7 linked regions of the Homo sapiens genome follow. The protein of the gene in region 3 purifies or fractionates together with the protein of the main gene of each other region. This does not show direct contact. Each region holds a gene or a part of one and is shown on either strand. Other genes may lie near its edges.

The links.
Region 1: the proteins of TMED7 (region 3) and EIF2AK3 purify together in Homo sapiens (affinity purification with mass spectrometry; one large-scale study listed by BioGRID and IntAct). This does not show direct contact.
Region 2: the proteins of TMED7 (region 3) and SLC30A6 purify together in Homo sapiens (affinity purification with mass spectrometry; one large-scale study listed by BioGRID and IntAct). This does not show direct contact.
Region 4: the proteins of TMED7 (region 3) and SMOC1 purify together in Homo sapiens (affinity purification with mass spectrometry; one large-scale study listed by BioGRID and IntAct). This does not show direct contact.
Region 5: the proteins of TMED7 (region 3) and OCRL purify together in Homo sapiens (co-immunoprecipitation; one large-scale study listed by IntAct). This does not show direct contact.
Region 6: the proteins of TMED7 (region 3) and HECW2 purify together in Homo sapiens (affinity purification with mass spectrometry; one large-scale study listed by BioGRID and IntAct). This does not show direct contact.
Region 7: the proteins of TMED7 (region 3) and PDPK1 purify together in Homo sapiens (co-immunoprecipitation; one large-scale study listed by IntAct). This does not show direct contact.

What each region holds. Positions count from the first base shown.
Region 1 is NC_000002.12:88,592,965-88,596,464, forward strand, and holds part of EIF2AK3 (eukaryotic translation initiation factor 2-alpha kinase 3 isoform 1 precursor), read right to left. Parts: intron 2,700-3,500; coding exon 2,505-2,699; intron 1,095-2,504; exon of another isoform or gene 949-1,094; intron 442-948; coding exon 308-441; intron 1-307. UniProt on the Homo sapiens protein: Metabolic-stress sensing protein kinase that phosphorylates the alpha subunit of eukaryotic translation initiation factor 2 (EIF2S1/eIF-2-alpha) in response to various stress, such as unfolded protein response (UPR).
Region 2 is NC_000002.12:32,193,364-32,196,863, reverse strand, and holds part of SLC30A6 (zinc transporter 6), read right to left. Parts: intron 2,976-3,500; coding exon 2,881-2,975; intron 1-2,880. UniProt on the Homo sapiens protein: Has probably no intrinsic transporter activity but together with SLC30A5 forms a functional zinc ion:proton antiporter heterodimer, mediating zinc entry into the lumen of organelles along the secretory pathway.
Region 3 is NC_000005.10:115,619,537-115,623,036, forward strand, and holds part of TMED7 (transmembrane emp24 domain-containing protein 7 precursor), read right to left. Parts: intron 1,145-3,500; coding exon 899-1,144; intron 884-898; exon of another isoform or gene 532-883; intron 1-531. Other genes in the region: TMED7-TICAM2 (TRAM adaptor with GOLD domain isoform 1 precursor), read right to left, coding at 899-1,144. UniProt on the Homo sapiens protein: Potential role in vesicular protein trafficking, mainly in the early secretory pathway. Appears to play a role in the biosynthesis of secreted cargo including processing and post-translational modifications.
Region 4 is NC_000014.9:70,011,916-70,015,415, reverse strand, and holds part of SMOC1 (SPARC-related modular calcium-binding protein 1 isoform 1 precursor), read right to left. Parts: intron 2,031-3,500; coding exon 1,925-2,030; intron 1-1,924. UniProt on the Homo sapiens protein: Plays essential roles in both eye and limb development. Probable regulator of osteoblast differentiation.
Region 5 is NC_000023.11:129,571,259-129,574,758, reverse strand, and holds part of OCRL (inositol polyphosphate 5-phosphatase OCRL), read right to left. Parts: intron 1-3,500. UniProt on the Homo sapiens protein: Catalyzes the hydrolysis of the 5-position phosphate of phosphatidylinositol 4,5-bisphosphate (PtdIns(4,5)P2) and phosphatidylinositol-3,4,5-bisphosphate (PtdIns(3,4,5)P3), with the greatest catalytic activity towards PtdIns(4,5)P2.
Region 6 is NC_000002.12:196,223,055-196,226,554, forward strand, and holds part of HECW2 (E3 ubiquitin-protein ligase HECW2), read right to left. Parts: intron 2,817-3,500; coding exon 2,718-2,816; intron 1-2,717. UniProt on the Homo sapiens protein: E3 ubiquitin-protein ligase that mediates ubiquitination of TP73. Acts to stabilize TP73 and enhance activation of transcription by TP73. Involved in the regulation of mitotic metaphase/anaphase transition.
Region 7 is NC_000016.10:2,541,021-2,544,520, reverse strand, and holds part of PDPK1 (3-phosphoinositide-dependent protein kinase 1), read right to left. Parts: intron 1-3,500. UniProt on the Homo sapiens protein: Serine/threonine kinase which acts as a master kinase, phosphorylating and activating a subgroup of the AGC family of protein kinases.

The sequences.
Region 1 (3,500 bases), on a different chromosome or scaffold from region 3:
AACCCCGTCTCTACTAAAAATACAAAAATTAGTTGGGTGTGGTGGCACGTGCCTGTAATCCCCGGTACTCGGGAGGCAGAGGCAGGAGATTCGCTTGAACCCAGGAGGTGGAGGTTGCAGTGAGCCAATATCACGCCACTGTACTCAAGCCTGGGCGACAGAGCAAGACTCCGTATCAAAAAAATATATATATATATGCTTTTAAGGCAACAAAATAGTCAAAATCTCCACAAACAGAAATCTGATAAATTTTGGTATTAGGTGTATTTCTAAATAATACCAACAGCAACATTATCTGAATACACACTTCTCATTGCCACTGCGAGGTCCGACAGCTCTAACAGTTTTTTGGGTACGCTGTAGAAGCAGGATGTCTTCCTCTTGTTCCATTTCGTCACTATCCCATTGGCGACAACCCAGAGCTGAACAGATATACCTCACCTGAAAAGACAAAATTAGATACAAAATTAGTAAAAGGAGACAACTCATAATAGATCAGAGATATTAAAGGAATCTGTAATTTTTAAAAAGTGAAAGGAAACTAAGGAAATGTGTATGAAGTACTCAAGTCATAAGAAGCATCAGTTAGATTACCAACTCCTAAAATGAGTTATTTAGAACAATGACAGTACCAATGAATATTTATTTCAGGGAATGATTTTAAGGATTTACATAATTTTAGCCTTACTTTGGAGATTTCCATAGAATATACAAGAAGAAATGGATAGCTACTTGTGATAGCTTTTCTACAATATCATTAATAAAATTTCAGGTGAGTTAAAAAAAAAATCAACCTTAGAGTTTCTGTATAACAAAAGTGTTTGGTTTTTAAAAATTTGAAACTTTTCTGAGAGCTTTTTGTATTCAAAAGTAACTGCCTCAAATTTTCACTAAAGAAAAAAGGAAGAGTTAATATGATCCAAACTAAAATCCTCACGAAAAGCATACCTTCTACAATACCAGAATTATGTAGCAGCACATCAAATCGGAAAACCAGGTGATCGGGTTCAATCCTGTTGTTTACAGATGAGACTACCGAAGTAAACAGAGATTGAAGTGCTTTGCTCAAAAAACGGCCAGATAGGATGGCATGGCCTCCTCAACACAATGCAGATGCAGGTGGGTGGAGAAGGCAGAAAAGCATCTGCAAGAGCAAGAAAGTGCTATGGGCCTAACACTTAGATAAGGAATTGTTAAAGTTGAAAAATGCAAGAGTAAAAAGACCACGTTTCTATTCTTCCTTATTTTAGTCCAAGTCTGTATATAAACCGTTTACACGTCACAATGGTGTGATCTCAGCTCACTGCAACCTCCACCTCCCAGGTTCAAGTGATTCTCGTACCTCAGCCTCCTGACTAGCTGGGACTACAGGCGTGCGTGCGCCACCATCCCCAGCTAATTTTTTTATTTTTAGCAGAGATGGGGTTTCACCATGTTGGCCAGGCTGGTCTCGAACTCCTGGCCTCAAGTGATCCACCCACCTTGGCCTCCCAAAGTGGTAGGATTACAAGTGTGAGCCACCTTGCCTGGTTGAAAGGATGCTTTTAATTAGCTACTCTTGATAATGGATTTATAAGACCCAATCTTAGAAGCAGATTATATTATGATTATATCCTAAGAGCTAATGTTGGAGAAAGTCTAGATTATTAACAGCATGACTTTGTTGTCAGATAGATCTAAGTTAAATGTGACCCTGGAAGTTTCTGAACCTTTTAAAGTCTCAGTTTCTTCATCTGTAAAATGAGTATAAACTTTCCTCTTGGATCACCTTATTATAGGATCAAACCCTATAAATGAGTAGTATCAATTATTCTTATCATTAGGATTACTATTAATCTTTATAAGGTTCTTCATCTGTCAAAATGTAAAAAAAAAAAAAAAAAAACGAAAGTTACACTTAGGAAGACTGTGAAGATTGCAAAATAATGTATAAAAAAAAGAACCTGAGGCTGGGCATGGTGGCTCCTGCTTATAATCCCAGCACTTTGGGAGGCTGAAGTGGGCAGATCCCTTAAGGCCAGAAGCTGGAGACCAGCCTGGCAATACAGTAAAACCCTGTCTCTACTAAGAATACAAAAATTAGCCAAGCATGGTGGCATGTGCCTGTAATCCTAGCTACTCAGGAGGCTGAGGCACAAGAATCGCTTGAACCCACTTGAACCTGAGGGGGTGTGGAATGGGGTGGGGGTGGGGATTGCCATGAGCTGAGATCAGCCTGGGCAACAGAGTGAGACTCTGTCTCAAAAAAAAAAAAAAAAAAAAAAACACCTGAGACACAGTAGACCATATTTATGAATTCTCTTCCTCCTGCTATTCCTGGCTCTGCCATTTATTCTGTTATTAGTTTCCCCTTCCTACCTCACAGTTCTCTTATTAAAACAAATGACAACCTCAGGGGAAAATTACAATAAAACTCAACTAATAATAAGTGTAGTTTAATAAATTACTTTTTCTACCCTAATTTACTCTGATTTCCCCAAAGTAAATTCAGCATTTTCACTTACCTTTCCACTATATGCACTGAGTCCATATGTAGTCAGAGATTTTCCTCCAACCAAAACAACATCATCTCCAAATTTATAAGAAGATTCAAGAAGTGATTCAACTGTGAAAGGAACTGTTTCCATGCTTTCACGGTCTTGGTCCCACTGGAAGAGGGCTCCATCCAGGGAAGGAATGATCATCTTATTCCCAAATACCTAAAACAGAAGCTAACTTTTTAAAAGGGCCATAACATTAATTATTATTTTTTTCTTATTTCTCCCAGAAAAATAGAAGCATCATACCTTTAAAAGAATAATAGTAATTAAGAGCTGGAGTCTTGATCCTGATGTACTCCAGCCTCCTTCTGAGTAGCACATGAAGCAGTGCAGTCCATCAACCAAAAGTAATTTAAAAGAACTGCCAATCACTCCCAGGCCCTACACATAGTACTCTAGTAAGATTTTTCTCAAACTCAGTTTACCATGGGCCAAAAGGGTCCCATAATGGTAGGTGAGTTACCAAAAGAGAGTTTTATGATCAAGTGAGTTCAAGAAGAGGTTACTATAGGAGCTCTTATAGCAATTAGTATGTTAATGTGTAACATGATTATGTGTAATATGTGTAATATGAATATTTAATGTGTAAATAGATAATATATGCAGTATTTTCTAGGGCTATTTTTATCAAGGCCAATTACTGTCATAGACTCAGCTCCAAGGAACACAGGTTTAGAGATACTGATTCAAGTAGTGTCCCATCCCTTCTTTCATTTGCTTTCTCAAATCTGCAATGAGATAGAAGCCTAGTAAGTAAGCTTACTGGTTTTGTGTTCTCGGTTGCCCTCCCTTCTTTTAACAATGCTTATTAAGGGCTTACCTATGGCCTGGCACATTCTGATGGTTGGGATAGATTAGCGAGCAAAGCAAACAAATCACTGCCTTTGTGAAGGTTAAACTCTGGTGTCACGAGACAAACAACTTAATAAATAAGTAAATTATATGGTATGTTAGGTGATA
Region 2 (3,500 bases), on a different chromosome or scaffold from region 3:
GTCTTGAACTCCTGACCTCAGGTGATCCACCTGCCTCGGCCTCCCAAAGTGCTGGGATTACAGGTGTGAGCCACCATGCCCAGCAGTTCTTTATACTTTTAAGCAGAGCTTCCTAACTAGTGTGCTGAGAACGGGCCATAGGTACAGGCTGAGGATCCCAAATCTGAAAACCAAAAATCCACAACTTTGAGCACCAACATGATACTCAAAGGAAATGCTCATAGGAGCGTTTCGAATTTTAAATTTTCAGGTTTGGGATGCTCAACCCATACATATAATGCAAACACTCCGAAATCTAAGACAATCTAAAATGTGAAACACTTCTGGCCCCAAGCATTTCAGATAAGGGATATTCAAACTACATACAAATTAATTCCCTCAACTCTCAAAAAAGCCAGGTGAGAACCTGGGTACCTACCTGGCTAGAATTAAATAGGTTATTCTATGTAAAGTATTTAGCAGTGCTTGGCATATAGAAAGTACTTAATATTATTTCCCACTCAAATTTCAAGTAATTTCACAAATCTTTTTTCTTTTTTTTTTGTTTTGAGATGGAGTTTCACTTTTGTCACCCAGGCAGGAGTGCAATGACGTGATCTCGGCTCACTGCAACCTCCGCCTACCGGGTTCAAGGGATTCTCCTGCCTCAGCCTCCCAAGTAGCTGGGATCACAGGCGCCTGCCACCATGCCCGGCTAATTTTTATAATTTTTTAGTAGAGACAGGGTTTTGCCATGTTGGCCAGGCCGGTCTCAAACTGCTGACCTTGTGATCCGCCTGACTTGGTCTCCCAAACTGCTGGGATTACAGGTGTGAGCCACCAGACCCAGCCTTCATTTTTTTTTAAAGCCAGAGTCTTGCTATGTTTCCCAGGCTGAACTCAAACTCCTGAACTCAAGCAATACAACCACCTCAGCCTCCTGAGTAGCTGGGACTAGAGGCACATGCTACCAAGCCCAGCTAATGTCACAAATCTTGATGTTTCTGGGAACCTCCATTTCCAGCTAATGAAAATATAAAGTAGGCTGGGAGCAGTGGCTCACGCCTGTCGTCCCAGCACTTTGGGAGGCTGATGTGAGAGGACTGCTTGAGCCCAGGAGTTTGAGACCAGCCTGGGTAACACAGGTAGACTTTGTCTCTATTAAAAAATAAATAAATAAATAAATATAATATAATATAATAAAAATATAAACTAGATAACTTTTCTGGAAATAAATTTGGCAATATACAACAAAGCCTTTGAAAAATACTGTATTTTTAATCCAGTAAATAATTCCTTCTCGGGGAATTTATCCTACAGAAAGAATAAAAAATGCAGACGAAGTTGATCTAAAGAGGCTGATTATAGAGTTATTTATAAAAGGAAAAGTTAGAAATGTATAAAATATTTTAAAATATTCATAACAATATTATGCAAACATTAAAAAATCATTTACATTCAAAGAGTATTTAATGAGAAGCAATACTGAAGACATAATGCTAATCAAAAAGCCAGACATGGCCGGACGCAGTGGCTCACACCTGTAATCCCGGCACTTTGGGAGGCCAAGGTGGACAGATCACCTGAGGTCAGGAGTGAGACCAGCCTGGCCAACATGGGGAAACCCCGTCTCTGCTAAAAATACAAAAATCAGCCAGGCATGGTGGCACATTCCTGTAACCCCTTGAACCAAGGAGGCAGAGGTTGCAGTGAGCCAAGATTGCGCCACTGCACTCCAGCCTGGGCAAGAGAGTGAGACTCCGTTTCAAAAAAAAAAAAAAAAAAGCCAGGCATAAAACTGTAATATATACAATTCTAAGTAAGCACATAAAATTATATGTACGTGTGCATACAAAAAAGTGGAAGGAATAACATAGAAATGTTAACATATTATCTGTGGGTCATAAGATTATCAGTAGTCTTATTTCCTTCTTGTATCTCCCTGATCTTTACAGGGAAACAGTGTTTCTAAATCTTTGCACCATCTTAAAAATTTCTAGAGTAAGTGTTATAGTATTTTATAAATTATGAATTTTTTTCAAGAAATTCTAGTGATCTTAATTATCATTATTTAATTTTCTAATTCATGCAGTACTTCTTTAACTCATACAAACACAATTTATCTTCATAACATTCATGAAGTTGTTTAAACTTGAATGGGCATTTCAGAAAACTTTCTTCTCTTGACTATCCTAGAGTGAGATCTAAAAAGATCCACACCTATCTGTGCTTCTCTATACTTCAAAGTGTGGGTCTGTGCACACATCCCACTTCTATTTTCACCTCACTTCTCCATCTCTTAGTGGCTAACTCTTTTGTGGGTTAGTGGGATTCCAAAACACTGAAATTATTGAAAAAAGAAAATAATTTAGACTGCAAAAGTGAAAAATCAGTCTGAAGTTGTAAATACTTCAAAATAAAAGAATATTTCCAAAGAAATAAAGTTTGGCTACTTGCAAACATATATGCCCATCCACCATTGCCAAAGAGAAGTTCCTGGGAACTTACTTTATTAACAGAATACAATTATTTTCAATTAGCATATCAACTAAGAATTCTAAGTATACTGATACTTCTAAAATGCTTACAATAGACTTTTCTTAGATAGATTACACATTTAGAATCTCACATTATTTGGTAAATGTAATTTTTCATCACCACATGATTTAATTTACAGGTCACTCCTGCCTGTTTTAAAATAATTTGTTATTTTAAAGCTTGAACTAATGAGATTTTGTTTTATAATTTTCCACTTAAAAAAGACTTGAGAACATTTGGGCTAGTTCTCTCTTGTCTTCAGAATATACTTCTTCATTGATCTGAGTGAACGAAACAAACAAAAGGCTTGTTTTTATGAGAGATTAGTTGGATTTTTAAATTAATAGTAAATAAAAAACATACCTTCTGAGACATAAGCAAAAGGTTTATTCCGAATAGAAAGCATCGTGAACAGGTTGAAACAAAGAGCCACAAAAGTACCAACTAATAATCTTCCCCTAAAAAGAACAACGATAACATTCACCTTTAATTTGTTCTTGGTATTATCAGTATGTAATTTCAATACGTAGAGGGACTAAGAGGTGGGAAGGTAAAGTGGTCTGCTTTAATGATTTGGTGTTTCCAGATACAGAATCTGAACTTAGTTACTAGCCCCATCACCCATGTCCCATCTACTGTTGCTCCATCTTACAAAGGATAAGTAAGGACTTTTAGCATTAACAGTATCTTGCTACAGGTAAACGCTGTTATAAATCTGTATAAATATCAATGGTATTTGTTTTACGATATACTGGACAAGTCAGACTTTGTGGAATTAAACTGATCAGAATAGATAAGGTCCATATAGTTGGCAGCTCTGTGGTTGAGAAATACAATTGTTTTTTCATATATATGATACATACAATTCTCTTTTCATATATATATGAAAATCACATAGTTGCAATATATATGAAACATATATACGTTTCTTTTTTTTGGAGACAGGGTCTCACTCTGTTGTCCAGGTTGGTCTTGAACTCCTG
Region 3 (3,500 bases):
AGAAGTGCTTTGAATTTCAGATTTTTTCTGATTTTGGAATGTCTACATATACATAATGAGATATCTTTGTGATGGAACCCAGGTCTAGACATGAAATTCATTTATGTTTCATATATGCCTTATACATGCAGCCTTAAGGCAACTGTATATGATATTTTCAATGATGTGTCATGAGATCAGATGTAACAATCTTCCACTTGTGTCATCAGGTTGGAGCTAAAAAAAAGTTTTGGATTTTGAAGCATTTTGGATTTTGCTGTATTTGAACTAGAAATAAAACAGTCCTCATCACCTAAGCAATAGTTGTTCACTGGGTTTAAATTTTTTACGCTTTCTCTATGTCTCCAAAATAAATCTGAATTTAGCTTTTGTAACTATTTTTGTGAGATGACTTACCATTAATCTTCAATATTTCACCTAAAGTTACAGCACAAGTTACTGTTACAGCAGCTTGAGTAACACTAAGTAATGGTATAAAGGCTATGATATGGTATTATTTATCTACTAATTTAGGCATCATTTTGCTTCCAGTTACACCAGCCTCCTGAGTATGACAGCAACATTCCTTCAGGGATTAAAGAAAATGCTTCAGAAGATTGGAACACTGCTCAGCCTTCCCAACCTTCTTTTACCACTGATGTTTCTACCTTAGTGATCTTCCTCCTTATTTTAATGCTTCTTTCTCTTTACAATTAAAAGTTCATAAAATCTTTCAACATTATTTTTCACTACAAAAGTCTGAAGTTCTCTGTGAAATGCCTACATGTAAGAATTAAGATAGATTTTAAAGACTGTCAGTCTCAAAATTCCATGCTCATCAGTTAGTGCATGATATTAAATTATGCTTTTTTCCTCCTTTTAAATATACCAACATTATATTGCTGATTTTTTTATTTACCTGGGTAAGAGCACTGACTCGGTTCTCACTAGGAAACAAAGGTGGGTCTTCTCCAACTTGAAAATCAAAATATACAGTTTTATGTGTGAAAGTAGAAAATTCATTGCTGAAGCAAAATTTGTATGTCCCATTTTTGGAGGCTGTGAAGGTAAAACTATCATACTGTTTCTTCATCTCTTTGTATAACACTTTACCATCAGGATCTTCTAATCGACAATCTACATCATAGTGACCACCAGTAATCACCTGTAAGAGATTAAAAAAGAAAAATCACTGTGAAAAGTGTGAAAAATTAATCAGATTTAATCAGATTTCCTATTAAAATGGCAATAAGGTGATGGGCAAAGGACTTTTACTATCTTTTTAAATTTTCACCAGTGGATGGAACTTGGGAGATTTTACTTCAACTAAACTTTACAGAAACTGAACAAGTATTCTCCAACTTTTATTCACTTTGAACTAGCCAGACAACTGTGCTAATTAATGGAGATCTATTAGATCACTTAATTCTCCCAGCAACCCTACAATATACTTTTTTCCTTCCATTTGACAGACTGAAAAACTGATGTTAAATAAGCGAACTATTCAAGACTGTTCATCTAAATTAAGTGGGAAAGGCAGAACTTGAACTCCAAAGTCATATTCTTAACCTCTAAGCTTACTGCCTGCAATATTTTCCTTCTGAAAATTTTCTAACCCACTTTCCTATTAGCATCATCCAAGCACACACACAGTGAAGTAACAAGGTAGGCCAATCCTTAGGATTACACCCCATTCATACTTCTATCATAGAACTTAAGCTCATTTTACTGCCAAATTACAAATAGATTACATTTATTAAGTTCTTTTATAGTCAGTTATATGGAATTTGATATACATTTTGTTTTGAACTACACTATAAGTTGAGTAACGGAGTGGGCTATTCTAAAAGTATATAATCATTTACAACCTTGTTTTGAGGAGAGACACGTAACTGATTAAATAAAATATTGTTGAAACTCTTGTGATTAAAGCAAAAACAAAATAACATGAAGGACAACAAGTCTGTTTATCTAGAAAGCCAGTACTTAATGGCAAACATACTGAATGGAAGCCTGGAGGTAGGTGATATGAGTCTGAACAGAACTGTGGAACTACTTTCCACGGCTTATGCTTAATCAGTTACAATTCCAGCCATTTGGGTTGTACAGAGGAGGGAGAGATTTTTCCTGCGGTAACTGGATAAGTATTGTAAGAGACAAAAGGGGGAAAGGATTAAAGAGAAAGGCTTCCTTACATGAGAAAGAACTGAGTAGGAAGAAAGAGGGAGTGCAGAGAGGTGAACAGAGTGAACGTATACACATTGGGTTGAATGAAGGGTTCCCAAACCACCATGTGATTGGGGAGCACAAGATTGTTATTTTCAACCTTGAACTCTCTTGGTTAGCATCCTGACATTCTAGGTCAAACTTTGGATTTAAAAGAAGGATCTGTGTGACCTTTTCTCACTTGAGAGAAGATGACTAATGAACTATGTTACATATCATTTTGATAATCTAATGAAAATAATTATGCACTTATGAAACTGTAAAAATATGTAAATGTTAATATACAGATAAAATGTTTTGATATAAAAGTGTCTTATCAATTGGGGATTTACCAATCCCCATCCTCACCAAAAAGTCAGTAACTTTTTCTCCAGGTGAAAATAACTTCATTTTGCTATACTGAATTATACGTATTTGACCATTGTATTCTGAATAATCAAACACATACATACAAACCGAATAGCACCAGAACTTATCATCACCCCACTTCTCTTCCATCAAACTTAAAACAAGTAATCTCACTTAACAGTATCCCTTTAAACCTGTCCAATCACCTACTATTGAAACTGAGGATCATCCCAAACTAACTGTCCCTATCTATCCATATGATCACACAAATCTCTCAATCTTTTTGCCCCTCTCAAATTCATCGCATTCCGAAACCACAATCCAGACAGGACTATTGCCACAACTTCCTAAAAGGTCTTCCCACTACCCAATATCTTCTCCCTCGAACTCAGGGTTTCTCAACCTCGCATTATTCCCATTTTGAACTGAATAATTCTGTGTTGTAGGAGGCTGTATGGTCCTGTGCACTGTGACACGTTAAACAGCATACCTGGTCTCTAACTACTAGATGCAGGTAGCTGCCCTTCTCCTAAAATGATGCCGAATGTCTCCTGGGAAGAAGGGGTGCCCATCTCCCCATCTTTCCTCATTCCCCATTGAGCAATCACTTAAAAACTTTTTGATAATTACCTGTGGCCTGCAGACAAATCTAAACCTCTTAACAATGGTATACTATTCACATGTTCTTCCTCCCAGGTAGCTTCAGAACCTCTTTTATTCACACCCTTACTCGTTCTATGTTCCTAAAATACCAGACTACCAGAAATTCTCTGAACAAGTCTTTGCTTTACATCTGCACTGACAGTGCAGTTCAACAGGGTTTGCTAAAGAATCACACGGATCAAAATGACAGTGTTTGCAAATCTACAGTTTATTACTGTAGGTTATGTTATAAATCTACAGTTTATAACATTATACGACTATATATGTCTATGTAAGCTCTCTGA
Region 4 (3,500 bases), on a different chromosome or scaffold from region 3:
CTAGCCTGTTAACAAACATCTAAGTGTATAGCACCGTGCTGTTAACTATAAGGACAATGTTGGACAGCAGATCTCTGGGACTCATTCATCTTGCTTTGCTGAAACTTGACACCCATTGGTTAGCAACTCCCCAAACCCCTGGCAACCACCATTCTGCTCTCTGCTTCTACATGTCTAACTGTTTCAGGTACCTCATGTACGTGGAATCATGCAGCATTTGTGCTTGTGACTGGCTCATTTCACATAGCATAATGCCCCCAATATAACAGGATTTCTCTCTCTTTTAAGACTGAATATTACTCCACTGTATACAAATACCGCATGTTCTTTATCTAGTCATCCATTGATGGGCATTGAGGTTGTTTCCATATCTTGGCTATTGTGTGCACTCACTTTGATTTGATATAAAATTGGGTTTTCAAAATGGCTGCCTTCTTCTGCCTCAGGATGCAGAAACGTCGACAGCTCCACTTGGAGCCCTAAACTCCTACCCTAAACACATACCACATGGTCCTGCCAATCACCACTGAGGGAGCTATGCTGGGGTCCTTCCAAGGCCTAGGCTTGTTCTCTTTGTGGCATTCCTTGCCTTATGGATAACAGCTCTGCCTCTGGGCAGATGCCGGGGGACTAACGCTCCCTCCTCAGTGAGCCATATAAGTTCAGAGCAGGCTGCCCATCCCTGCCAAGCCTAGAGTACCTCCCCTCCTGCTGTAAGGAGCCTAGACACTACCACACTTGTCTCCAACAGTCTCTGCTGTGCTTCCCCTTCTGGCTTCATGAGCATGAGCAGAAGTCTTACTCAGCATGTCTCACAGGACTTTCGGGATCTGAGTCCTGCCCACCTCTTCCATCTCACGATTACCACTCTTACCTCCTCTGCTTCCTCCTCCTCCGCCTATCCACCCCAGCCCAAGCTAACTGAACCACAGACATGCACTTTCTTGGAGCCACAGTATCCTTTCCTTCTCTCTGGAATGGCTTTCTCTTTTCTTTATCTACCTATCTTTTCTTTGATAGGTAGATAAGTCCTACCCATTCTTTAAAACTCAGCTCAGATATCACCTTCTCCAGGAAGCCTGCTCTGACTCCTCCAGACTGAGTGAGACAACCATTCTCCATTCTTCCACCTCTGTCCTAGCACTCACCACAGATTTTGTAAGTATCTATCTATGGTCTAGTATCCCCGCTAAGCTGCATCCTTTGAAGGTGGGACATGCCTCTATCCCCAGATACCTCATCCTTAGCCCAGTGTTTGCTGTGTTTTCCATGTTCAAAAGGTGGTAAGCGGATGGATGAATGCGTGCATGCATCTCCAACCGACTGGCCTAATGGGCCCAAACTCATGAGTGCCAGCAATGCTGGTTACTGGGGAGCATGTGCATTTCAGCCTCACATCAGGACTGCCTCAGCTACCACCTCAATTCCTGACCTGAGCTGTATTTGGCTATATGAGTGTCCAGTTCCATTGCCAAGAGCTCCTTGGAATTCTCAGGATGCCAAAAAGGCATTTGGTTCCTGCCTTCTAGGAGAGAAGAAAATTGCAAAGTGCTTTGTGCTCCCTCTCTGCCTCCCTGTTCCCATGATATAACCATCACCCTTCCTGCCATTCAGAACTCTCACTCCAACCCATCACCTTCTGAGATTAAACAGCTGGAAGTCCCAGACAGCCCTGGACTTTCCTATAAATCAGGTAACTAAAAGCTAGGGACAAGCAGCTCCCAAAGAATAGGGAAGGTAGAGGGGCAGGAAGATTTTTGACAGAAGGCGGGTCAAAGCTATGGGTACATGGTTTCAGGAAAAAGATCAACTTCCAGCCCTTGCCCTCCTCAAACCCTGCCCACTCTCTCACCCTCCCTCAGCATTTGAAAAGTCAGGGGCCCCACATTTTTCTCCTGGGCCTGATTCCTGCTCACAATCTCACCTCCCACCTCCAGTGGGCGCTGCTGAGTTAATGGCCTGAACCATGTCAGTGGTGAGAGCATCCAGTAGGCTGGTGATAAACTCCATTTTCTTCCCTTCTGGACAGCCTAAAAGATAAAATGAGATTTGAAGGTAGATGCCAGATAATAATCAAGTCAACAGCTTTCTCAACTACCATCCTTTCCTAAACTTCTCAAAGCCCTTCTTGTCCAGCCAAATCCACTTTAGTGATTTGTTTACTGATCAGATGAGTCTCATAAACTTCCATAGTTCCTTTACCCATACCCCACAAAGGACCATCAGACCAAATAATGCTTTCAATTTTCTTCCATTCCACACATTTTTGCTAGACATCAACTCAGGCACCATGTTAAACGCTAGAGATACAGAGTTAACAATACAGAAGGTCCTTATCCTTGTAAAGTTCACATCTACAGGGGAACTCAAGCTAATAGCCAAGCAGTCGTCCTAAAGTGAGAAAAATACTGTGCTAGGGGTAAGAACTAGGGGCTGTGGGAGCACAAAGGAGGGAGAGAACCCCCAGTGGTCAAAGTTGACTTAAGTACACCTACCACCAGATCCATCCAAGAGCCTCCTCCTTTTTTCACTTCCCTCCTCAACCATCTTACATTATAACTACAGCATCTCTCTTGTAAATACTCCCAAGTCCTTGTTCCTTTTTTCCTCCTTGTATTATTCCAGGAAAACACAGTAAAGCACAGAAGAACCTTCTATAGATGTGCCTTTTCCATGTCTACACCACGTAGCTGGGGAAAACACCACCACACAACTGGATAAATGGGTGTCCTATAAAGTCACGATCACCAGCACCAAATGGGCCCTCTACACTACTCCCAGTGCTCCTCTCCAAAGCAACTCCACATAGAAATTAGCAACTAGCTCATTCTCTTCTGTCCCCAAATCCTCCAGGTCTCAGGTTCAACACTTGCTTCTCAGAGAAGCTGTGGAATCTAAAGCAGGTTCTCCCTGCCATTCTCACAGCATGTTCCGCTTTTCCCTCAGAGTACCCACCACAACTATCTATAAATGCCTGTATTCATTTATTCATATCCAATCTGTCTCCTCCACTCTGTAAGTCTCATGTCAACTTTGACCACTAGATTATACCCAGTGCCTGGCACATAGTAGAATCTCAATTCACATTTGTTGAGGGGTTAGCTAAAAGGGGTACCCTGGCCACCATGACTCCATTCTTGTGATGGGGTGATTTCTACAAACCTCGTGTGGAAAATCCCTGACTCTTAGAACTCTCTGCTTTCAGTTCTCACTTGGAGTCCTGATAGGTCATGGGAAGGTGGCCCATTTCCCACCAGCACTAATCTGACTTTGTGCTGTGTAAAGACAATAAGATTCCAAGCCACCAATATTTAGTAATGTTACTGTAACTTGCAGGCAGAGATTGCTATAAATAAGGGGAAACCCGCACATCAGCCATTTGGAGGTACCAGGGCCCTGCCTATGTGTCTTGTGTCACACTCCATGGTCGTCCTGTGTCACCAGGGGTCATCTGCCTCTTCAGAGCAAGCAACAGACACTGTCCACATCGCTCAGGACAG
Region 5 (3,500 bases), on a different chromosome or scaffold from region 3:
GAAGAATATTTTCTTGCTTCATTGTTAAGTTATTTGGTAGTGGAAAAAATGTGATAATTGTGGTAAAAATGATTGCTTGCACTGTACAAAATGACAGTGTCAAAACACAGCAATTACTGTTTCTAACAATCATAACTTGGTGAGGTGGCAGCAAATATTATTAAAAAGCTTTTAACTCTATTAGATTCTATGTACAATACCAAGAAGTATAATATCACTGCTCAGATTACATAATAGCAGAGATATATTAATAAATGGAACCTACAGCCATTTTAGAAAATGGCTGAAACAAAATGTCCTAGACTAGAGTAAAACCATGACAACGTATAAACACATCTCCACTGATAAAAAAATTTTCCACCTGACACAGCACTTTCAGCTTCCTGATATAGCTGTGTTTTTTTAAATATTAAAACTTCATACAAACCAATGCCAAAATTAACATAACTAACAGATTTTAACTTGAGATATCGGTTTCTTTTTTAGACTAGGAAATTTCACAAAAATTCATGTCAAAAAAAATTGATACATGCAGCAAAGGTTCTAAAAAGATGTGGAAACAGATGCTGGTGAGGCTGTGGAGAAGTAGGAACGCTTTTACACTGTTGGTAGGAGTGTAAATTAGTTCAACCATTGTGCAAGACAGTGTGGCGATTCCTCAAGGATCTAGAACCAGAAATACCATTTGACCCAGCAATCCCATTACTGGGTATATACCCAAAAGAATATAAATCATTCTACTATAAAGACACATGCACACATATGTTTACTGCAGCACTACTTACAATAGCAAAGACATGGAACCAACCCAAATGCCCATTAATAATAAGACTTGATAAAGAAAATGTGGTAAATATACACCATGGAATACTATACAGCCATAAAAAGGAATGAGATCAGGCTGGGCACAGTGGCTCACACCTGTAATCCTAGCACTGCGGGAGGCCGAGGCAGGAGGATCACTAGAGGTCAGGAGTTCGAAACCACCCCAGCCAACACGGTGAAACTCTGTCTCTACTAAAAGTACAAAAAAAAAATTAGCCAGGCATGGTGGTGGGTGCCTGTAATCCCAGTCACTTGGGAGGCTGAGGCAGGAGAATCCCTTGAGCCCGGGAGGCGGAGGTTGAAGTGAGCCAAGATTGCACCACTGCACTCCAGCCTGGGCAACAGAGCAAGACTCCACCTCAAAAAATAAAAAAAGTCATGTCCTTTGCAGGGACATGGATGAAGCTGGAAGCCATCATCCTTAGCAAACTAACACAGGAACAGAAAACCAAGCACCGCATATTCTCACTTATAGGTGGGAGTTGAAGAATGAGAACACATGGACACAGGGAGGGGAACAACACACACCAGGCCACTCGGGGTAGTGGGGCGAGGGGAAGGAGAGCATTAAGGTTAAATAGCTAATGCACGTGGGGCTTAAAACCTAGATGATGGGTTGATAGGTGCAGCAAACCAACATGGCACACATACCTATGTAACAAGCCTATACGTTCTGCACTTGTATCCCACAACTTGAAGTGAAATAAAAATTTTTTAAAATGTTGAAAATAAGAACATCAAAGCTGAGTCAAGTATCTCAGACTGGGGAAGTTTTTCACATATTTGAACTGTAACTCTTAGAGAACCGAGGATCAAACAATCACTTTACCATCACCAGGGTCCATAGTATAGCATTAGTTTAAGATGAATTTTATACTTTTACAAAACTTTGCAACTTTTAATTTCCAAAAGTATTTTGCACATGTCTTTTTATTTTCACAACCTGGAAGGCTACCAAAGCAAGGAATATTTTTGTTCCGATAGTTGAGAACATTAAGATACAAAACAATCAACAAACTTGCTCACTGCTACAGTGAATACCAAAGGTGACATCTGGACTAGTTTAAGACTCTTTCCAATATACTAGATATGTGACAGAATCAACTTGAGTATGTCTTAAAAGCACAGCTGCCTGGGTCTACTAATCACAGCCTCTAGGGGTGAGGACACATGCATCCACACTTTTTTTAAAGCTCTCTAAGCAATTCTTACATCCACTGAAGTCTGAGAACCAATGCAACAGATCACAGTACCAAGTGCAGGGTTGGAACCCTATCCTAGCTCTATCTCAGCCAGCCCACAGAAAGTCTTCTGAAATTAATTGGCCACGGTGCACTTGGCTCCTTTGTTAACAGTCATTGGTGCCAATGGTGGTGAAAATATAGTGTGGTTTTTAAAGCCTCTAATCATAGCATGCCCAAGAATCCAAAACATGGGGTGATTACTCAATAAAATCAAACTTTTTCTCAGCGGGTTATCATGATCACAGCACTTAATGGCAAATCAAAGATAATGAGGAGGGGGGGAACCCCAAAGAATTTCACAACCTGACACATCCATTTTAGTAAAGGAAATTACTGACAAAATTAGGAATTTGAAAAAAAGTACAATGAGCTAGGTCTTTATGTAATAAGATGGGAGGTTCTCCAAGACACACTGCTGAGTTAAAAAAAAAAATCAAGTTGCAGACCAACACATACATATAAGACCGTTTATGATATAGAGACACACACAAATCAGTATTTTGTCTATGAGTGAACAAAAAAGCATATACAAAGGTCTAGAACTGCACTGTCCAGTACAATAGTGACTAGCCACATAGGGAATTTGAATTTAAATTACTTTAAATTAAATTAAATTAGAAGTTCAGTTCTCAGTTGCACTAGCCACACTTCAAGTACTCAATAGCCCCCTGCTGCTAGAAGCCACTGGACTGGACAGCACAGATACAGGACATTTCCATCATCACAGAAAGCTCTATTGGACAGCACTGGTCTAGAAAGATATAAACTCCTAAGGGTAGTGGCCTGGCTGGGGAATGGGGGTTTAGGCAAAGTTGGGAGTAGGAGACAGAACAGGGATTGAAGAACTTCTGCCTTATCTGTCAATTCTGCTTAAATTTCCTTTTAATTTTTTTAAAAGCACTTGTCATTGCTGTATAATTTAAAAATCATTAAAAACTCAAAAGGCATATCTTTATTAAAGATATACATAAATACACAGGAAGCCTGAAAAAAAATGTAAATATCCCACTAGAAGCTCTGCATTAATGTGTATGGAGTATTAAAAACATCCCAAGGTTGGCTGCGAGCGGTGGCTCATGCCTGTAATCTCAGCACTTTGGGAGGCTGAGGCGGGTGGACCACAAGGTCAGGAGATCGAGATCATCCTGGCTAACATGGTGAAACCCCGTCTCTACTAAAAATACAAAAAATTAGCTGGGCGGGAGGCTGAGGCAAGAGAATGGCGTGAACCCAGGAGGCGGAGCTTGCAGTGAGCCAAGATCGTGCCACTGCACTCCAACCTGGGTGACAGAGCGAGACTCTGTCTCAAAAAAAAAAAAAAAAAAACCAAAAAACAAAAAACAAAAACAAACAAAAAAATCTGAAGGTTTTGAAAAGAAATGTAAACAAAAAAGCCAGGCATACCTGATCTAACCAAAGAGGTTAGTGTTT
Region 6 (3,500 bases), on a different chromosome or scaffold from region 3:
AATTTTAAGGGTCATTTTTTTTCAGTTCAATCTGAACATTCATTAGGCATCAAGCATGTACCAGACATCTGAATAGCTACTTGATGAATAGTCACTACCCCCAGGAGCTAATGGGCTAGTTGGGGAGCCAAGTACACAAACAGATAAGTTAATATAAAGCGATAAGTGATAACATAAGATTGGTAACACTTAAAATTCATGTACTTTTAAAATCTATGTCACACTTCAATTTAAGAAAAGATAAGGTAGGGATAGGGATTTAGGTGTCAGAGCACACATGAGGGGCCTTTTCTTTGACTGAGAGATTCAGGAAAAGCTTTTTGCAGAAGATGATGCCTACATTAAATCTTTCAGGATGTTTAAAAGCAAGAGACGTAAAAAGGAATACATGAAGGAGGAGAAGGGGAAAGAGAAAGGAGAAAGAGAGAATAACATGAACAAAATACAAGGCATGGATGTGTACAGGAAACTCCAAGCATATCAGCAGTTTGAGAGAGTTAACCTTAAGACAGAATTTCTAGAGAATGAGGCCAGCAAGGGAGCAGGCCTTAATATCATCCTAAGGAGATTGGTGATTCAGAACTACCAAAAGATTTTAAGACAGGGCATGACATGATCAGACGTGAAATGTGAATTATAAACAGCTCCTCTGGAAGTCCCAGTGTGAAGGATTATTTAAAATGGGGTGGGATGAGGGGTGGTTATCATTAGAGGGTAGAGACCAATGAATAGACCACTACAGTAATATGGCCAAAATAAGATAAGGGCTCTAACTAGGGCTGTGCTATTAAGGTTGGAGAGAAGAAGATGAATTTGAAAATCATTTAGGAGGCAAACATGTAGCAATCAGGAAATGGTTTTATTGGGGGAGTATAAAGAAGGATATCTAAAACAGGGGTGACAAACGAACTCATGTCAAAACTAACTGTAATTAATTGCTGGGCTTGAGCACTATAAGTTAAAAAGATTTCTGAGGCCACAGTGAGTTCAGTGGGAAAAAGTACCACAGGTGATTTGTGAACTCTACCCTGGGAATGATGGGGTAGAGTAGAGATGGGGAAGAGTAGAACATGTACCGTGTGTATTTGTCATCGCTGTTTAAGGGTGACTCCCAATTTCTGACCAGAGTGGCCTGAGAATAGTGGCACTATTAACTGTAACTGGGCATATGGGAGAAGGTATACTTTTACGTAGGGAAACTTGATGAGCTTAGTCTTAACCATGTTGATTCTGAGATCCTTGTAAGACATCCGAGTGGAGATATTTGGTGGACTGTTGACCATGTGAGGCTACACCTTAAGGGAGATCATGACTGAGAGTACAGATTTGGGAGTCAGAGGAGATAAGACAGGAGAAGAAATTCCCCCATGAGAGCACACTGAGTGAGAAAACGAGGGGCCTGGTGATAGAAGCTTCAGGTACACCAAGACTTAAGGGCAAATCAGAAGAGGGACTCATGAAGGGACAGAAAAGTTAAAAAAAAGAACCCGCAAAGTACAGTGTCATAGATGCCAGCTCTGAAGGAAAGACACAGGAATAAATGGTGGCGGGTGTGGGTGGTGCACAGTGTCAGAAGCAGCAGCATGATCCAATAAGATACGGACTAATCAGTATTCTTTAAATGCCTCCACAGGTTTTCTGGTGGGAAAGAAACCAGGCTGAAGTGTGCTTAGGGTGTGAATTTGAGGTAAGTGTAGACAGTCAGTATAGACTAGTTTTTCAGGAAGCTTAAATGAGAAGATAAGAGATAAGGCAATGAAATGGGAAGATGCAAAGTGGGCCACAAAGAACCAAAGAGACAGAAAACGGCACCTGTTCCCCAGTGCTACAGCTGTGAAGACACTGAAAGAGAAGAAGGCAAAAGTCTTTCTACTGACCCTCCCAAGGGCCCACAAGAAGCATTTTGTTTGCTTTCATTTGAGGTCTAGGCTTCCATTTTACAGTAAGCAAGTGCGTGGCCTCAGTTAGGGTATGAGCTGGACAGAGCCAAGTGATAATTCAGTGCATTCTCATCGCAAATTTGAGCTACTATCCCACAGACAGTTGTCTTCTGTTCAGCCTTGTAAATGGCTGCTGATTATAGGACAGAAACAATTAGCCCTACATTTTACAATAACTGCAATCTTTCATTAACAATGAAGAAAAAGTTCTGTGAATGCTGAATTTTCATTTTCCATAATAAATTACTAAGGGCATAGAGAAAGTTTAAGAAACATATGGCACTGTCCACCCTTGACAAACAAATAAAAAACAAAACCAAAACAAAGGAAAATGAAGATTTGAACGAGGAGTAAGCATTTGAAAATATGCATCAAGCCAAATATAAAATGTGTCTCATAAAGGAGAGGGGGGCTGTGAGTCACTAAGACTAACCCACAACAATTCTATTAATAATCTGCATTAATACCACAGGAATCCCAGGGCTGTGTTTGAAGTACAATTGTTTTAAAGAAACACATGCTGCAACAAATGAGAATAAATTTTGGGGGGTAGAGCAAAACTAAAAATCTGGGGGCTAAATAGGTCAGAGGCAGGAAAAACACAGTAATCATATTTGAAATTGCATTAGTTTCAGAAATCTAAACCACTATTAGGTTTAATAACAACAAATTTGAGATTGTGAACAGATAAACAATGACTTTGACAGAAGAATTTTTTCAAAAAAGTAAATACTGCATTTTACATGCTAATTATGCAGGCAATAAAAATATTCTTACATTCTGAGAAGAGCCTTATAAAAGGGCCGTGTGAAGAAGGCATCCAACAAATACTGGTGTATTAGTGCAAGACCAAGGATCCTACCACTGAATCGGAACCTGTGAAGGAAACACATGAGATGGCTTACATGTCATGGAGCAGTTTCTAGGTGGTTCCATATGCTTTCTAGAATGCCTTCCAGCGCTAACCATCTAAATTTTTCCAATATTAATTGCCTACTAGGTAGTGAGAATTTGTAGGCACCATGGGCTGTGTCTTCATCAGGCCAGTGGTACAGTTTGTATACTTGTCCCTGCCCAAATGTCATGTTGAATTGCAATCCCCATTGCTGGGGGTGGGGCCTGGTGGGAGGTGTTTGGATCATGGAGGCTGATCCCTTATGGCTTGGTGCTATCTTCATGATAGTGAGTTCTCATGAAATCTGGTCATATAAAAGTGTGGCACCTCCCTCCAACACACACACACACTCTCTCTCTCTCTCCCTCCTGCTTTTGTCATATGATGTGCCTGCTTCCCCTTTGCCTTCCACCATGATTGAAAAAGCTCCCTGAGACCATCCCCAAAGCCCAGTGATTTGGGTGCTATGCTTCCTGTACAGCCTGCAGAATCATGAGCCAATTAAACTTCTTTTCTTTATAAATTACCAGTCTCAGGTATTTCTTTATAGCAATGCAAGAATGGGCTAAAACAGCCAGTAATTCATACCTACTTGTTGAAGAATCAGTTTCACTCATATTTAGAGACCCTGCTCCACCTTCACTGCATATCAACAATGTAGCACC
Region 7 (3,500 bases), on a different chromosome or scaffold from region 3:
GAAAAGGCTAGGGATATTCATTGTACTATGCTTTCAACTATTCTTCGGTTTTGAAATTTTTCAGAACAAAAATTAGTGGAGAAAGGTTCATCCTCAGTCCAGTAAGTTCCAGGAGACAGAGCCAGACCTACCTTATTCACCACTGTTTCTCCACTGCTAGCTCAATGTGTGGTCCTCATCCCACTGGCCCAGGAAACCACTGCTAATATTTCTGTGGGAACCTCCCTCCAAGCTTTTCCCTGGGCCTGAGGAAAGTTATACTGGGCATGCTGCTTTGCAACCAGGTCTCTTCAGGTAGAAACACTTTGTAACCACCTATCAGGAGAGTACATACAGTCTGCCATCCCCAACCATAGGTTGACTCCACATGCATGGATTCAACCAACAGTGGATAGAAAATATTAGAAAAACAAGAAATTGCATCTGTACTGAACATGCACAGACTTTTTTTTATTGTCATGATTCCCTAAAGAATATAGTAAAGCAGGCCGGGCACGGTGGCTCACGCCTGTAATCCCACCACTTTGGGGGGCCGAGGTGGGCGGATCACCTGAGGTCAGGAGCTCGAGACCAGCCTGGCCAACATGGCAAAACCCGGTCTCTACTAAAATTACAAAAAAAAAAAAAAAAAATTAGCCGGGTGCGGTGGCACGTGCCTGTAATCCCAGCTACTCAGGAGGCTGAAGTAGGAGAATTGCTTCAACCTGAAAGACGGAGGTTGCGGTGAGCCGAGATCGTGCCACTGCACTCCAGCCTGGGCGACAGAGCAAGATTCTGTCTCAAAAACAAAAAACAAATAACAAAAAACCCAGCAGACTGGTCAGAAAAGACTGTACAGCCACAGGGGTTTCCATGTAGGGAAATTTCTCTAGGCAAGGAGGAAAAGCCTGAAGAAGACAAGAACTGCTGAGAACAGGGCAGCAGGGAACATCCTGGACCCACCTGGGCCGCACAGGCTGGAAAGAGAGGCCGTGGCCGGGCATCCGAGCCTGGGCCCCTCACAGAGGAGGAACAAAGTGACAGGCCAGGAGAGGAGGGGAAGATGCAGGAGTGCTGGCATCTGGGGACCAGCCAGCAAGTCCTTGGAGCCCTCCCTCACCAGAAAAGGGGAAGCAGGAAGGACAGCGGCAATGGCCAGAGTGAGGAGAATGCAGCGTCCTGCAGCTCCATGGAGTGAGCGCCTCCTTCACGGAGCAGCCCTGGCCGCCCTGCAACTGAGGCCGCGGCACCGAGGGTCCCGCCAATGCAGCAAGGGGCGAGAGACACCACACCTAAGACTCAGGAGCAAGGTCCTGTCCCCGCTCCCAACCCCGGGGCTCCTGGAATCACCGAGGCAGAACTGAAAAGTGAGTGCGGGCCCCTTTCCCACATGTTCCACTGCAAAGGTCAACACACGCCAGGCGCATTTCAGTGAGGCTTCAAGTCTTCCCTGCAAATCTCATCAGCCTTTTCTGATGGCATTCAATGCACAGCGGTCACTTTCAGCTACAACCCCTTCCTACTGCAGTCGAATTAATTCCAAAAGGGAAAAAACAGGTTAAAGAATGGGACTTTAACGATGAATTTATTGCAAAAAATAAGCCCATAGCCAGAAGAATCCTGACTGGCATCCTGCTGAGACACACAGCCTCTCCTCAGCCCTCTCCAGCACGGGGAGAGGGCACTGTCACCAGCTCCGCAAACACGCAGGAGACGGGGACCTCCAGAACTAACGTCCTTGGTCTCCAGACCTACCTTCAAACCTCATCTTTAAATATTTCGAATCCCTGCGTGCTACAAGCTGACTTGAAACACAGATTGGGCCGGTCCCAGCACGGTGGCTGGTAGAGAGGGCATCTGATCTTGTCTGTGGAATGACGGAAGTCACTGGACTGTCCAGGAACTACATGCCCACCTTCATCAGATGGAAACCACACACTTGTTTATTCTGCAGGGGGCCGTGTGCTCAACAGTGAGCTGCTAATGTCAGGCTTGTCCATCTTTTTCATACACAGGCTCTACAGTACTGTCAGTTCCCAATTCTGTGGGTCCCTGTATAATCCAACTCTTTAAACAGAAACCAGGCTGGGTGCGGCGGCTCATGCCTGTAATCCCAGCACTTTGGGAGGCCGAGGCGGGAGGATCCCTTGAGACCAGAAGTTTGAGTAGCCTGGGCAACATAGTGAGACCTCATCTCAATAAATAAATTAAATAAATAAATAATGTAGGTGGTGCGCACCTGTAATCCCAGCTACTTGGGAGCCTGAGGCACGAGAATCACTTGAACCCATGAGGCGGAGGTTGCAGTGAGCCAAAATCATGCCACTGTACTCCAGCCTGCGTGACAGAACGAGACTGTCTCGAAAAAATAAATAAATAAACAAACAGAAACCAGAATCAGGTGCTCTTATAAGGGATGTGTAGCCCAGAAACTCAATCTTAACACATTCTAAATGACCTGGAATTTCTTGGAGCAAAAATTCCAGTTTAAATATCAGGAAAATTGTCTAGACTAAGAGAATGGAAACGGACTTTGTGCAACCAACATCAGGTACAGAAAAGAGACCCCAACAATCATCATGAACCCAAACAGGCCTTTCTCCTCACTAAGAGAAGAGAACACACACAACCCATGCCTTGTTACTCTTTGAGAAGATGTGCCCTGCCTGTGATCTAGCAGCTAGAGACGGAACATACAACCTGTTCTCAATATTCAAATAATTTTTTAAAGGACATGGTATCACACTGAGCAAGTGAATAATGCAATTCTGCTGTAGAAGAATGCACGGCTGAAAAGACCTGAGCAACTCATGTCCAAAACTTGCAGTTTCCACAGCAGCACTTCCTCCCAGCACACTGCCCTTTGAACCTGCTTTCTAAACAACTGTGCTGGGCAGCCCAGTGGCCACATGTCATCGCACAGCAGGTGTGGAGCAGCATAGAGCACCCTGGCCCTCGCACCTGCTTGGGGGACTGTTTCTGCACCCAGGGCTTCTCTGCAGCCACAACCTGCCCCACACAGAACTGCAGCACCACGTGGCATCCTGTCCATTTCCTCAGAAGGGGAAAGTGCCACGCCAGTGCCCACTCTCTTCCAAACACATCCTCTCAGAAGGGACTGGCCACGCTTGCCCCCTCATTTCTGCAGCGCTTCCCAGTTCATCACCTGCTTGCCAGACTCCGTCTCCCACCGGTGTCAATCAGCTGCCCTGGAGCATCTAAACCCTGGGTCAGGCGGCTCAGGGGATGAGTGCATAGACTGAAAAAGGAACACTCCCTGTTTCTCCCCAAAACTGTGCTGAAGGCAGTCTAGAGGGCCAAGACCTGTCAAGAAGAGCTGCCCAAGGCCTCTTTTCAGGCCCCACATCTCTGCAGGCTGCTGCTGGATCCTTCTCATAAGAACACATCTCAGAAAAGCAGAACAAACCACTTCCCTCTTACCACTGGGAGCTCACCTTGCCAGCTCTAGACTCAGCTTGGACTGGCTGTCAGGGCAACGTTGCGTACAGGAATACATCACA